Linked DNA regions of Homo sapiens: region 2 is linked to region 1. A link means that fine-mapping ties the variant in region 1 to the expression of a gene that starts in the linked region. Tissue or cell type: whole blood. Region 1 holds a variant in brackets; the other region holds the start of a gene. All regions are shown on one strand. Distances are from middle to middle.

Evidence for each region. PIP is the estimated chance that this variant, and not a neighbour inherited with it, causes the effect.
Region 2: TENT2 starts here. The variant in region 1 is fine-mapped to the expression of TENT2 in whole blood (TOPMed, PIP above 0.99).

What each region holds. Positions count from the first base shown.
Region 1 is chr5:79,633,441-79,641,628 of GRCh38, reverse strand. TENT2 (terminal nucleotidyltransferase 2) reads right to left here. Exons shown (of 15, transcript NM_001114394.3): 5 at 664-778; 6 at 433-524. Among named protein-coding and RNA genes, the nearest start is that of TENT2, 25 kb to the right of the region's middle. The variant C/T (reference allele first, on the strand shown) is at 3,802.
Region 2 is chr5:79,608,776-79,616,963 of GRCh38, reverse strand. It overlaps TENT2 (terminal nucleotidyltransferase 2), which reads right to left and starts at 4,523. Exons shown (of 15, transcript NM_001114394.3): 1 at 3,889-4,523. LOC124901014 (a long non-coding RNA gene) reads left to right here and starts at 4,627. Exons shown (of 2, transcript XR_007058840.1): 1 at 4,627-4,822; 2 at 4,944-5,493. RefSeq lists an enhancer at 3,719-4,918.

The DNA of each region.
Region 1 (8,188 bases):
ATTTTCCCTTAATAAGCATTTTCAAAGAGAAAAAAAGTAAAGATTAAAAATAGAATCAGTGAGAATTCAAATGGAAAGGAAATACATCAAGAAGATAATATTGCCACATACTCTTCTTTGCTGCATCCTGGTAACATATCCAAACTAATGACATTTCAAAACAGAGGTAGAGCTCTTGAAAAAAAAAAAAACACATAGTGAAGCCATCTCACTTTAAAAACTTAGAATTAAATTAATGCTATACTTCCTATTATGCTTATTGTGCACATGCCTTAAAAATAAAAAATTACCTAGGTTTCCTGCAATTATGGTAAACAAAATTCAAAGAAGTAATCACAACAAAGCAAGTTTTTTCCCTCAATGACTTTTATGTAAAATTTCTTAACTCATTAACATGAGAAACACACTTGGAATAAATGTTTCCTTACTTACTGGTTCTTCCTTAACAACTAGGCATAAATCACCATCACTGCTCCGGGTACCAAATCCATTTAAAGAGGACCCAACCAAAAAAAGTCTGCTTTCTAAAGAAACAGAAGAAAGTAATAAGAGTATTTAAAATCTAAAGTAGGTGCATGGTTCTGTGCCTATTAAAAAAAAAAAAGATAAAATTTAAAATAGGAATGCATATACCTAAAGGACATGCAAAATAGGGAAACATACGTGGAAATAACAGCTGAATTTCTCTCTGCAGCTGTGTTCGACAGAGTTCTTTCTTCTTTAAATCACTTATTTGCTGCTGACATGTTTCAAATAACTCCAGTATCTGCTGACTCAACTTGAATCCACCGCAAAAAAAAGTAAAAGTTTTGTTCAGCAATGTAAAAGTAATTGCTATATGGAGAAGCATAAATCAATTATACTGACACTATTTTAAAAGGGAGTATGTATTATCTTCTTAATATTTCCCAAAACAAAGCTACTATTACTCAAGTACAGGAAGAGAATGGTCTGAAAAACCACACATAAATTTTACAAAGTAAAATATACAAGTCACAGAAAAGTACAGTCACAGATACTTCGTAATAAAAATAATCCATGGGTCAGCAAACTGTTTAACACTTGCTCACTTTATTAGTATGGCCCCTGAGAAAAGAATTTTTTTATATTTTTAAAGGATTATGAAAACAAACAAATAAAAATATGCAACAAACAATATGTGAGTGGCAAAGCCTGAAGTATTTACTATCTGGCTTTTTAAAGAAGTTTGCCCAATCCCTAGTATTCACACCCACAAATACCAAATATAAGAGATGTCACCAGTCCCCGGTCTTCCAGGCTCATGCAAACCACCCTCCATCCCATTCTTCTAACAATGCCCTAAACCCTAACTTCATGTTGCCATCGACTTACCACCTTTTTTTTTTTTTTTTGAGACGGAGTCTTACTCTGTCACCTAGGCTGGAATGCAGTGGTGCGATCTCGGCTCACTGCAACCTCAGCCTCCTGGGTTCAAGCGGTTCTCCTGCCTCAGCGTCCCAAGTAGCTGAGAATACAGGCATGTGCCACCACACCCAGCTAATTTTTCAATCTTTGTAGAGACAGGGTTTTGCCATGCTGCCCAGGCTGCTCTCGAACCCCTGACCTCAAGTGATCTGCCTGCCTCAGCCTCCCAAAGTGCTGGGATTACAGGTGTGAGCCATCACACCCGGCCCTACCACCCTTTTATCTACTGATCTGGTTCACACTTTTCCCTCCAGCCCAACTCTTGCCATCAACATAGGTGATTTCCCTATCTGAAATGGGCTACATATCACAACATACTCCCTTTCCGGACTTTTATTTCCTCCAGTATTCTTCATCAGTATACACTCCTATAATGTGGTCTTTACAATAAACTGGAACTGCTCTAGCTCTGAAATTTTAAATTCCAATATAATATCTTGGCTTCAATCTTCTATCCAGTTCACACTTTCTCACTCTCCTCATACCTGCTCTAGAACCACAAGAGATCTAGATTCCCTTGAATCCTCCATTTTCTCCCAAGCCATCAGCATAAAAATGGTGTTATTTCTTTCCCTATGCAGTCTATACTACACAGTGCATCCCTTGAACCACTCTCTTATCGTGCCTCAACAACATTATCTCCTTGTCATGTTCTAATACTTGTCCTACAAAACCCTAATCTTAGGTCAATATAAAAAAAAAAAACCACCTTCACTGCTCTTACATCTAAGTTGCTAAGAAACAAAACTGAAAAAAAAATTAAAAATCATAAAATTGGAGTATTTCAAGTTTATAGTCTTAGGTTGGCCCTTAGCATCACTTAGCAATTACTTCCAAGTCTTTGGTTAGATATCACTTCTGTTTTTCATACCATTCCAAAATGTTTACTACCTTTTTCAAGCCCTCTAAACTTATCTCCCTTTCTCTAGCAAATACAGTTAAATTAAAGTTTACTAAGAAAATTGAGAATACCAAATGTGATATTCCTCAGCCTCTTAACCACAGACCTAAAAATGAACATATCTGGGGAAAAAAAAAAAGGCGTCCTTTTCCCCTGTTCAAAGCTAATCTCTCTACCAATAATTTTGTATTCAAGCCTTCTGGTCACCTTAAGGGCACAAACACGTCTACCAGTATTTCAGTCCTGCTCCTGTATTTTTAATCTCTCCCTCTCTAGGACTGCCTTATAGTCCATAATGAGGCAAAAGTATCACCCATCACGTAAAATGTTGTCTTTCACATATTTAGAATCCTCATTTTAAGAAGGCAGAGGCATTCTGGGCAATTTGGCAATGAAAGAAGCATAACATTTTTTTAAATCTCTGAATACTCACCCCACAAAAGACAGAGCAACTAGGAGAATAAATCAAAGAGATCAAACCAAACCAAAATGTGGCCACAAAATAAAACACAATTGACTGACCGGGTATTCATCATGAATACTCAGGAGTGGGACAAATACCAACAGCAGCAAGATTCACATGGTATCAGACACAATAAAAAAGGGAATGGGATTTGAAACAGTCTTAAAAGCAGAACATGCAGAAATCAAATTGCTTATAGGTAATACCTTCTCCCCCTCACTCACCAAATTCAGCAGCCCACATCAATGTACCACAACCAAAATAGGCAAGCAGCTTCATAGGCTACAATTCATAGGTAAATGCAAGGGGACCACAGAAAGATCAGAGACCTCCAAACAAAATGAGGTTCCCTTCCAAGAAAAAGCAACAGCAGAAACTGCCAGGAAGAGAAACCTAAACTGCACAGTACAGAGCCATCAGGAGAAAAGGAAAGGTGTAAAATGATTCTGACTCTCAGTGGACATATGAATATGAAAACATTTTTTATTATAACAGGACCAGGCAGGGCAGGTGAAAGGTCCCTGGCATCTAGTAGGTAGACGCCAGGATGTCACCGAACATCCTACAATGCAGAGGACAACTCTACCACAGCAAAGATTATCTGGCCCAAAATGCCAATAGTACAGAGGGTAAAAAATTCTACTCTAGATAAAAGTGGGAAAGGAAAAAAGCAAAGGCACTAAGGAAGTATATTTCTGAATACTATGTAAGAACAGAAGAAGGCTGGGCGTGGTGGCTCATGCCTGTAATCCCAGCACTTTGGGAGGCCAATGCAGGCAGATCACGAGGTCAAGAGATCAAGACCATCCTGGACAACATGGTGAAATCCCATCTCTAATAAAAATACAAAAAAATTAGCCGGGAACAGTGGCACGTGCCTGTAGTCCCAGCTATTTGGGAGGCTGAGGCAAGAGAATCACCTGAACCCGGAAGGCAGAGGTTGCAGTGAGCTGAGATCATGCCACTGCACTCTAGCCTGGGTGACAAAATG[C/T]GACTCCGTCACAAAAAAAAAAAAAAAAAGCAAAAGAGGAGAAGTCCTAGAGCCACAAAGCTAGCCTGCTCAACCCTCTCCACATAAAAGTAGCACACGGCTGGGCATGGTAGCTGAGCACACCAATAATCCCAGCACTTTGGGAGGCCAAGGCAGGTGCATTGCTTAAGCCCAGGAATCCGAGACAAGCCTTGGTAACATGGCAAAACCTCCCTTCTACAAAAAATTTAAAAATTAGCTGGACATGGTGATGCGTGCCTGTCGTCTCAGCTACTAGGGAGGCTGAAGCAGGAGGATCGCTTGAGCCTGGGAGGTCGAGGTTGCAGTGAGCCATGATCACACCACTGTACTCCAGCCTGGGCAACAGAGGGAGACCTTGTCTCAAAAACACTGAAATAAAATAAAATGAAAGTAGTACAGAAAAAGCCATCTCAAAGACAAATAACAGGAGGAAAGAAATGGAATCTCGAAAGAGGTAAGCATGGGAAAGGACAGAAAAAAAATTGAAGAAATAACGCCTGAAAGTATTCTAATCAATTCCCATACAAAGTATTTGTAAGAAAAATGAGAATAAACTGAGCAACAATTTTTTTTTTTTGATACATGGTCTCACTGTGTTCCCAGACTAGAGTGCAATGTCGCAATCACAGCTCACTGCTGTCTTGACCTCCTGTCAAGCAATCCTCCCATCTCAGCCCTGCAAGTAGCTGGGACTAAAGGTGTGCAGCACCACATCTGGTTAATTTTTTTTTCTTGAGAGATAGTTTCTCACTATTTTGCCCAGGCTGCAGGGTAACATTTCTACAGACAATAAAGCACACCAGAAGAATGTGTAAACAAAACTAATATTTTTAACATAATATAAAAAACCAAGGCCTTTTCTCTCATGTTTTAATTTTCTAAAAAGATAATTCACTACTTAAAGCATACATACTATCAACAAACAATTAAAAATTTACTTTTTAAGAACTTCACAATAGCAGCAAAAAGCATGAAATATTTAGAAATCTATGTACCAAGAGATGTGCAGGATTTGTATACTGAAAACTAGAAAATATTGAGAGAACCTAAAGACCTAAATAAAGGGAGAGATACACCACATTCATGGATCAAAAGACTATTGTCAAGGATGTCAATTCTCCCAGAATTGACCTTTAGATTCAATGCAATCAAAATCAAAAGCCCATCTGATATTTGTTTCACAAGAAATGAAAAAGAAATCAAAAGCCCAGAAGGCTTCTTTCTAGAAACTGACAGAAGAATTTTAAATTTGACTTAGGCAAAAGTCCAAGAATAGCTGAGAAAAAAATTGGGGAATTTAACCTACCTGACTTCTATACTTAATATAACACTACAGTAATCAAGATAGTATGGCCCTGGCAGAAGGATAAACAAAAAAGATCAACTGAATATCAGAATACTGAAATATTTACAAATAAAATAACTGCAATCTGATTCAAACTAATGAGGGAGGGAGGTAAAGGTGAAATAAGATTAGTCATATGTTGTTAATTGTTATGGTCATATGTTGGCAATTGTTAAAGTGGGCAACATAAGGATTTATGATACGTTTTTCTCTCTAGTATATGGTTTGATATTTTCCATAATAAAAAGCTAAAAAGAAAAGTGTCCAAGTTTGTAACAAATGTGAAAAAGATCTCCAGTAAAAGTGGCTAACATAAAATTTTACATGATACTTGAAGGATTAAGTTTTACTGACCTAGAGCAGGGTTGGCGAACTATTTAGGCCAAGTATAGGCAGCAAGCTAAATAATTTCTACTTTTAGTCATTGTTAAAAAGAAAAGAAAAAAGAATATGCAACAGAGGACCTACATAGCCCACGTGCCTAAATATTTACTATCTGGCCCTTCTGCCAACCCCTGATGTAGAGAATCAGGCAGATCAGATCAACATAATCCTAGAATTCACCGTAGGTACTCAGTATTTGTTGAATAGCAAAATAAATTTCTTGGCTGGGCAAGGTAGCTCACGCCTGTAATCCTAGCACTTTGGGAGGCCAAGGTGGGCGGACTGCCGGAGCTCAGGAGTTCAAGACCAGCCTGAGCAACAACGGTTAAACCCTGTCTCTACTAAAATACAAAAAATTAGCCAGGTGTGGTGGCATGCACCTGTAGTCTCAGCTACTCCGGAGGCTGAGGCAGGAGAATCGCTTGAACCCTGGAGGCAGAGGTTGCAATGAGCCGAGATCGCGCAACTGCACTCCAGCCTGGGCAACAGAGCAAGACTCTGTCTCCAAAAAAAAAATTCCTTCACAATGCCCAAGTGAAATGTTATTATATTTATAAAGTTCTTTCATCTGAATGACCTTGTTAATGTAGAAACAGTCACATGTTAAAAAATTTACAATGACTGGAAAATATGAAATTCCATATTCTTGTTCCTCTCCATTTTTTACATGCATGGAAACACTTTTTCTTTCCCAAGGACTACTATAATGGAGATTTAATGAGTTTTTATGTGAAAGAATTTTCGTCATTATCTACCCATTAACTTGGGGATTCACATTATCAAATCATATTACTTTACCCTAGAACAAACATTGAGAGTTCAGATGAGACAAAAAGAGAAATGCACATATATGTTGAAACAACATTTCTGGTGCTTTAATTTAGAGAAATATTCCAGGAGATGGCTCACTGTTGTTATAGTTCTTAAAAAAATAGAGAGGAGGAATGTATAATATGAAATATCCTTGGCTAAAAATCATATACGATTTAGATCATATATGTAATAACAAGCTGACCATGCATAATGGCACTCCAAAAATATTCTTTAATTCTGGGGTAAATTTTTCCTAATTTTTAGTTTAAAAAAACTATTCCAAGCCAGGTACAGTGGCAAATGCCGGTAGTATCAGCTACTGAGGAGGCTGAGGCAGCAACATAGCTTGAGCCCAGGAGTTCAAGAATAGCCTGGGTAACTTAGTAAGACCCCATCTCAAAAAAAAAAAAATCCCTCCAACAACATATATATAAAGTGGATTATTCTTAAACTTGTCTAAATCACTACAATATTATCTGCTTAGGCTACCTACCAAGATCTATCATTATAAAATTAACTGCTTAGGCTATCTACCAAGATCTATCACTATAAAATTAATTAGTCTATTTCTCACTACACAAAAAATTTACTTATACGTAGCCTAAAATATTAAAATAAATATTTCTGGCCAGGCGCAGTGGCTCACATCTGAAATCCCAGCACTCTGGGAGGCCAAGGCGGGCAGATCACTTGAGGTCAGGAGTTCGAGACCAGCCTGACCAAGATGATGAAACCCCATCTCTACTAAAAATACAAAAAAATCAGCCAGTCATGGTGACAGGTGCCTGTAGTCCAAGCTACTTGAGAGGCTGAGGCCGGAGAATCACTTGAACCTGGGAGGCAGAGGTTGCAGTGAGTCAAGACCACACCACTGCACTCTAGCCTGGGCAACAGAGCAAGACTCCATCTCAAAAAATAAAATAAATAAATAAAAATAAATATTTCTTCCAAATGTGAATGTTCATTTTTCCTAAAAAATATTGTAACTTGTCCTCAAAGTCAAGGTCAAATTAAATACCAATAAAATTGCCATTGTCTGAAGTCAACACAAGCCATAAGGACACGTGAAGTGCTGGCTGGGATTCAGAAAGTTTTTTTTTTTTTTTTTTTGAGACGGAGTCTCACTCTGTTGCCCAGGCTGGAGTGCAGTGGCACGATTCGGCTCACTGCAAGCTCCGCCTTCCAGGTTCATGCCATTCTCCCGAGTAGCTGGGACTATAGGCGTCCGCCACCAGGTCCAGCTAATTTTTTTTTTTTTTTTTTTTTTGTATTTTTAGTAGAGACGGGGTTTCACCATGTTAGCCAGGATGGTCTCGATCTCCTGACCTCGTGATCTGCCCGCCTCGGCCTCCCAAAGTGCTGGGATTACAGGCGTGAGCCACTGCACCCAGCCCCAGAAAAGTTTTTATATGTACCAATATATAAAGCTCTCACATGGTATTTAACACTGTATAACCTTCACATGGTATACTCAGCAGTTCACCACCTGTCCCTGATAGCTGGGCCCTTGAGTAAAAGAAAGTGGAAAAAAAAAAAAAAAAAACTTTTTAGCCTGGCACAGTGGCTCATGCCTGTAATTCCAGCACTTTGGGAGACTAAGGTGGGTGGATCACCTGAGGTTGGCAGTTCGAGACCAGCCTGACCAACATGGAGAAACCCCGTCTCTACTAAAAACACAAAATTAGCCGGGCATGGTGGCGCATGCCTGTAATCCCAGAACCGTTTGAACCCAGGAGACGGAGATTGCAGTGAGCTGAGATCAAGCCATTGCACTCCAGCCTGGGCAACAAGAGCGAAACTCTGTCTCAAAAAAAAAAAAAAAAA
Region 2 (8,188 bases), 25 kb after region 1:
TGTTTTTTCAATTCCATAAGATTAAAATTCCCTAGGTTGGCCACAGATAACAAGGCTCACCAGTCCAGGGTTCATAACAGATTGTGGACAAAATTCTATGAACCATCATCAGACCTCATCCTAAATGCCTGACTCTAATTTGGACCAGAGACAAGGTTAACCTCCAGAAAACAAGAGTCTGTCAACTTTCTTTAGCAGACCCTTATGTCTTTTTACAAGAGATTTTTAAAAAAGAAAATAATCCTGTCATATTTCCTCACCTGTACACCCTAGCTTCTTCAGAGGAAATGGAAATATCTTGAACTAAGCAGCATTCCAGGGAATCCCCTAGCAAAAATACATACAATAATCCTGGGCTGGGCAGTTGCTCATGCCTGTAATCCCTTGGGAGGCTGAGGCAGGCAGATTGTTTGAGCCCAGGAGTTAAAGACCAGCCTGGGCAACACGGTAAAACCCCATCTCTACAACAAATACAAAATTAGGCTGCACGCCTATAATCCCAGCACTTTGGGAGGCCGAAGCAGATGGATCACCTAAGGTCAGGAGTTCAAGACCAGCCTGACTAACATGGTGAAATCCCTACTAAATACAAAAAAAATCAGCCAGGCGTGGTAGCACATGCCTGTAATCCCAGCTACTTGGGAGGCTGGGACAGGAGAATCGCTTGTACCTGGGAGGCGGAGGTTGCAGTGAGCCAAGATCGCGCAATTGCACTCCAGCCTGGGCAACAAGAACAAAACTCCATCTCAAAAAAAAAAAAAAAAAAAAAAAAAATTAGGCCGGGTGCAATGGCTCATGCCTATAATCCCAACACTCTGGGAGGCCGAGGTGGGCAGATCACCTGAGGTCAGGAGTTCGAGACCAGCCTGGCCAACACGGCAAAATCCCGTCTCTACTAAAAATACAAAATTAGCTAGCGTGGTGGTGGACACCTGTAATCCCAGCTACTTGGGAGGCTGAGGCAGGGGAATCGCTTGAACCTGGCAAGCAGAGGTTACAGTGAGCAGAGATCGCACCACTGCACTCCAGCCTGGGCGAAAAAACGAGACTTCGTCTCAAAAAAAAAACAAACACACAACAAAAATTAGCCAGGTGTGGTGGTCTGCATCTGAAGTCCCAGCTACTCTGGAGGCTGGGGTGGGAGGATCGCTTGAGCCAGGGAGACGGAGGTTGGAGTGAGCCGAGGAGACTGTGCCACTGCACTCCAGCCTGGTCAACAGAGCAAGACCCTGTCTCAAAAACAAAAAAAAAAAAGAAAAAAGAAAAATCTTGGATTGCCAGATTCAAGACTGGCAACGAACACTTTTCACCCTTTGCTCAGGCTCACACTCCTTCTTGGCCTTTTTTACTCTGGTTCCCTAACCTAATTTCCCATAAAACATAGGATCCTACTTCATAGGATTTATGAGAAAATGATATTAAATACAATTCACTGTAACAAATTTTGCTTGATAGTTCATTTTGTTGGAATAGACACTACAAATCTAGTGAATGGAAGAAATATGTATTCAGAAAAACTAGAATTAAAATCTTGTACTTTCAGGTTTATTTAAATCGGTTCATAGCAAAAAGCCTAGATACTTTTGTTTATACCTATAAAAAATATGCTGTTTTTCCTCTATAACTGAATAAGGTCCATGTATATTAAGATTTGAAGATGCAAAATGACATCAAGAGCCCAGGCCTCACCTTGTTTTCATCTCTTACACAGCCAAATCCAAACTAAGTCTAAAGATGACTTGTGGCTCAGAACTACTCTACCAAGTTAATGACCAAATTATCCCCAGCTTAAAAACTTAGATTGAGTCCACAGCCAGATGTTTAGTCTAGGGCAGAAATCTAGTTTAGCATATTCCAAATTCCCAGAAATATATCAAGCTCTGGAGCCCCTGCAAAACAAAGGATCTGTCAGCCTCTCCTCAGTATGAATTTTGGCCCTCAAGTCAGGCTCTTTTTAAAGAAGGTAGGCTTCAAGTAGAGGAAAATCATTCCGACGCATTCGTTCTATGCTCACCAATATAGGTATTCTGAAAGACATCTAGAGTTGAGGAAGTAAATGAAACGCCTATGAATTTCTATGCCTTTTTCTAATACATTTCACATTGATTTTGATGAAAATAAAAATGACATCAAAACAATTATCATAAACAACATAATCATTTTTTTAAAGAGACTGTAGAGTTTCACAAAATACAGTAAAACTATTACTGTAACAGAAATAAGGGGACCTCCACAAAATTTTAAATCATTTTCTTCATACTCTGAATGAAAGGTTTCTTAAGTAGAGATTAGCTATATAAAACGTTACTCCACATTAACTATGGTCTTCTACCATCTCCTATGTGACAAATTTTATGATAGATACATAAAATCCAGATATTGGCAATATCCAATTTTCCTTACCTTAAAAGTTATCAGTTCCACAATCTGTACTTGACCATGAAAGAGTATACTGGTACTTTCTTTACGGAGAAAACCTTAAAGACGGTTTCCTAAGGTGGACCCAATGGGAAATTACACAGGTTTACATGAGACAAGGTAGTAAAAGAGTAGATTAATTCGGCCGGGCACAGTGGCTCACGCCTGTAATCCCAGCACTTTGGGAGGCCGAGGCGGATGGATCACCTGAGGTCAGGAGTTGGAGACCAGCCTGGCCAACATGGTGAAACCCTGCCTCTACTAAAAATACAAAAATTAGCCAAGCATAGTGGCACGTGCCTGTAATCCCAGCTACTCGGCAGGCTGAGGCAGGAGATCGCTTGAACCCAGGAGGCAGAGGCTGCAGTGAGCCAAGATAGTGCCATTGCACTGTAGCCTGGGTGACAAGATCAAGATTCCGTCTTGCAAAAAAAAAAAAAAAAAAAAAAAAAAAGATTAATTCCTAGTAATTTCTAGTTATAAAGTATTTGGTCCTGGAATTTGCAACCTGGAATTTCTGTCCTCAACTTGACCTCTCCTCCAACAAATTAGAGAACACTCAAGGTTATATATAATTCCTTCATCAGGATTCTTTAGAAAGCAGAATATACCTAGAATGAAAACCAGAAATTTACTGGCTAAACCAAGATACTGTCCATTTTGTCCAAATACCTTTGATATCTCAAACCCACTTTTCTCCACAATACGAAAAATCCAGTTCCTAAATCCTGCCAACCCACTGTGAAAACTACTTCCAGGTTTTGAACAGGATATTCCTTTTGGTTAAGAATTAAATTACACCCAAGTGTTCAAAAAAATAATCTAGTCACATGGCTCCAAATGGGCATTTCTTAAACAACTCATAAACGGCCTATTTCACATGGAACCTGTTACAGGACATTTCCAGAACAGACATAATTAGGGCTATTCACACCAACAAAGTAACGTCACTATTACTGGCTATTAATCAGTATAAATTAATAGCCTTATGGCTGTTAATCAGTACGTGTTAGAAGCCTGGTGGTACTGAACCATACAATATGAAGATATTTACAAAAGTTACTATGTTACCTGTAATATAAAAACACAGATTTAGTAATCAGTTACAATCTCTTTCTTCACAAAATCATACACTGCACATGTGTTATTTAGCTTGTGTTTTACAGTTTCCCTTTGTTTCTTCTCTGTTCACCCTAATGAAAAATATCTGCTACTTTAAACAAAGAGTTGAAAGAGATAAGACAAGTAATTTAGAGAATCCATAAGTTTTGAGACATATAAGCCTTTCGTGTTCTCACCTTGAGAGACGAAGAGCTTTTCTACAAAGGCTGAACAAGAAAAGAAACGCACACAACAGTCTTAACCTGTGCATTTTCCTATAAAGTGAAAAGCTGAAGCAATTTCATGCCATTTAATTAAGGCTTAAAAGATAAATGCCTTTTAAATTTTTTAATTAATCCAGCTACGTACCTTAGTTCTTCACCACCCTTTGAAACACCATGCAAGGGTCCCAAGACTATCTTCCTCTTTTGGTCCTGGAGTGGTGGACGAGGCAGTACGCGAGGAATAGAAAACGAGTAAGCAAAGTAAGCGGTCCTAAGATTCTTCAAAATGTACAGCAGCCCAGATGCCGCCCATAAATTTGGAATAACCAAGAGATACTGCTGGAACCTCCCACGCAAAACAAAACGCTACCGTTTCGGAAAAGTTTCCCGTGCCCCGCCGCCGACCTGGGCCTACACTGCTGCGTTCCTCTCCGAAACCCCCTAAACTCACAGGTGTCCTCCGGGAAGGGCTAAGCAGGGCCTACCCGCACTGCCCGTTCAGAAGTTCTAAGGCCCGAGCTGGGCGTACTTGGTCGTAGCTTTCTCCCGAACCAAAGGAGGTAGTGGTGGCCCGTGGGACAGCTAGGCCCAGCTCCGGCTCCGGCTGAGATCTAACCCCCCTCACGGCTGCCAGGGGAGGAGCAACACAAGAAAAGGTAGGGGCTGCAAGGATATAGAAGGTTGGGGGCGGTGGCAAAAAGCGGAAGAGCAAAAAGTCGCCGAAAAAGCGGCGTAGAAAACCCTGTCAAAGACACCCGGAAGACCGACGTGACCCCGGATGAGAATAGGCAGCGGGGAGCGAAAGGTCACACTTCCGGTGGCCGCCTCCCTCCCACCCCCCAACCCCCCCCACCCCCCAACCCCCCCCACCCCCCCCACCCCGCCTATGAGCGCTTTGCTTGAATGCGCAGGCGCAAGACAGCCGGATTTGAAAGGAGTTTCTTAACTGCTGCCAGCACAAGTTGGGAAAGGGTTAGGACTGCACTAAGAGGGGTGGAGCAGGCAGTCGCCGGAGGGCCACTTCTGGGCCCCTTGCCTGAACTCACGTGCAGCCGTTCTAGCTGTAACAGACGTTTTCTGTGGGTCCTTCGTGTGTTGGCCGAGTGACTTGTCCCCAGAGAAGCCTTTCTTTAACCAGTGTTCCCCTAATCTTCTCCCCCGGAGCAACATTAAACTTTATCTGTTCTTTTGCCCCTCCAGTAACCTGAGAGCTTCTTTGGAAGGAAAATGCTTTCTTTGGCCGGACGCGGTGGCTCACCCCTGTAATCCTAGCACTTTGGGAGGCTGAGGCGGGCGGATCACGAGGTCAGGAGTTCGAGACCAGCCTGGCCAACATGGTGAAACCCCATCTTTACTAAAAATACAAAAATTAGCCGAGCTTGGTGGCGTGCGCCTGTAACCCCGCTACTCAAGAGGCTGAGGCTGGCGAATCGCTTGAACCCGGGAGGCGGAGGTTGCAGTGAGCCGAGATCGTGCCACAGCACTCCAGCCTGGGCGACAGAGCAAGACTTTGTCTCAAAAAAAAAAAAAAAAAAAAATGCTTTCTTTCTCTCTAAAGCCTGGACTTAGCGCCTTGCCCATAGTAATAGCTGGTATTCACTAATTCAACAAATATTTATTGATATCGCCTCTTGAGTGAGCTTTAATAATTTGTAGAAATGTCTAAATTGTTTAATAATGCAAATCTGTTAGCTGTATTCCTTTATTGTCCACTTAATGTCTATAAAATCTGACCCCTCAGGTTCTGAAATTGGTAATTTGTGTGTCATCTTTTTTTCTGATCGATCTGGTGAGGGGCTTCTCGGTTTACGGATCTCAAATCTCAAAGCCCGTTTTTGCTTTCTTGGATTTTCTCTACTGGTTTTCTGTTTTCTATTTTATTGATTTCTGCTCTTATGTTTATTGTTTCCTTTACTCTGCTATTTTTTAATTTTTAAATTTCTTGTTTTGTTTCTCTAGTTTCTTAACTCAGAAACTGATGACCATTAATTTTAGATGTCTCTTGTTTGTACAGGCATTTGGTGTGATAAGTGTCCCTCTATACTGTTTTAGCTACATTCCACATATTTTGATATATTGTATTTTCATTTTCCTTCATTTCAAAATACTTTGTAATTTCCCTATTGCTTTCTTTTTTTGACCATGGGTTTTTTGTAAGTGTTGGTCTGCAAATGTGGAGGAGTTTTCCAGGTAGCTGCCTGTTACTGATTTCTGATTTAATCCCATTGTGATCAGAGAAGGTACTTCGTACACTATTAATAATTTTAAACTTATTGACACTTGTTCTGTGGCCCAGAGTATATAGTCTGTCTTGGTAAATACTCACTGTGCATTTGAAATGAATGTGTTTTTTGCAGTTGTTGCATGGAGTGTTCTATAAATGTCAATCATGTCAAGTTGGTTGATATTAGTGTTCAAATCTATATCCTTTCTGATTTACTGTCTACTTATTCTACTAATTATTGAGAGTATTGAAATTTCTGACTATTACTGGTTTTTTTCAATTGTAGTTCTATCAATTTCTGCTTCATGTACTTTGCAGCTCAGCTATTAGTTGCATAAACATAGTTATTCTCTTATTTGTATGAATTTATCCTTTATGAAAGTTTCATTATTATGAAATTATCCACTTTACAAATGACCCTCCTCTTTGCTGATAATGTTCTTTGCTCTGAAGTATATTTTGTCTGATAGTATTACAGCTACTTAGGCTTTCTTTTGTAGGGTGTTAACATGGTATATATAAGGAAAACATAATTCCAATTCTAGATAAAGTCCTCCAAAAATTGAAGAGGAGGGAATACTTCCCAGCTCATTCTGTGGGGCCAGCATTACACTAATACCCAAACTCTAGATATTAAACAAGCAAACTATGGACCAATATCTCTCATAAACATAATATGCACAATTCTAGTCACTTTTATTTCACAGTATATAAAAAAGATAATACATTATATCCAAACAGGTGCTTATCCTAGGAATGCAAGGTTGAATTAGCATTGTATTGACCATAAAAGAGTATACTGGTACTTGCTTTACGGAGAAAACTTTAAAGACTGTTTCCTAAGGTGGACCCAATGGGAAATTACACAGGTTTACATGAGACAAGGCAGTAAAAAGTAGATTATATAAAAAAGATATATAAATATATAAATACATAAAAATATATAAAAAAGATAATACATTATAACCAAACAGGGGCTTATCCTAGGAATGCAAGGTTGAATTAGCATTGGTAAATCAAGCAATGTAATTTACCATATTAACAAACTAAAAAAGAAAAACCATTTGATAATCTCAATACATGCAGCAAATGCATTGGACAAAATCCAGTATCCATTCCTAAGATTACAAGGAAACTTCCTCAACTTGATAGAGAGTGTCTATAAAAAGCATCACACTTAATGGTGAAGAACAGTGCTTTCAACTTAAGATCAGGAACAAGGCAAGGATTTCTGCTCTGACAACTTATGTTCAATATTGTACTGGGGATTCTAGCCTGTGCAATAAGGCAAGGAAAAAAAAAAGGCATTCAAATTAGCAAAGAAGGAAGTAAAACTGGTTTTATTTGTTTTATTTATTGAAAACTCTGGCACAAAATCTACAAAAAACTATCAGATCAAATAAATGACCAAGACTACAGGTCGTAAAATCAATACACAAATGTCAATGGCATTTGTAGTACACCAGCAATAAACAATCTGAAATTGAAATTTAAAATACCATCTACAACAGCATCAAAAATTTGAGGCGGGCATGGTGGCATGCACCTGTAGTCCCAGCTACTTGAGAGGATGAGGCAGAGAATCACTTGAGCCCAGGAGTATGATGGCATTATGATAGGTCACTGCAGCCCCAGAAAGAGAATGGAAAGACAAGCCAAAAACTGAAGCAGCTATTTGCAAATCACGTATCTGATAAGAATGTGTGTGTGTGGTTGTTTTTTTTTTTTTTTTTTTTTTTGAGATAGGGTCTTGCTGTGTCTCAAAAGAGCTGGAGTGTAGTGGCATGCTCACGACTCACTGCTACCTCGACTTCCCAGGCTCAAGTGATCCTCCCACCTCAACTTCCTTAGTGCTGGGACTACAGGTGTGCACCACCATGCCTGATTAATTATTGTATTTGTTATAGAGGATGGAGTTTCCCCATGTTGCCCAGGCTGGTCTCGAACTCCTTGACTCAAGCAATCCACCTGCCTCAGACTCTCTAAGTGCCGGAATTACAAGTGTGAGCCATCATGCCAGGCCCTGGTAAATAATTTATATCCAGGCTGGGCAAGATGGCTCACGCCTGTAATCTCAGCACTTTGGGAGGCCGAGGTGGGTGGATCACAAGGTCAGTAGTTCGAGACCAGCCTGGCCAATATGGTGAAACCCCGACTCTACTAAAAATACAAAAATTAGCCTGGCATGGTGGCAGGCGCCTGTAGTCCCAGCTACTTGGGA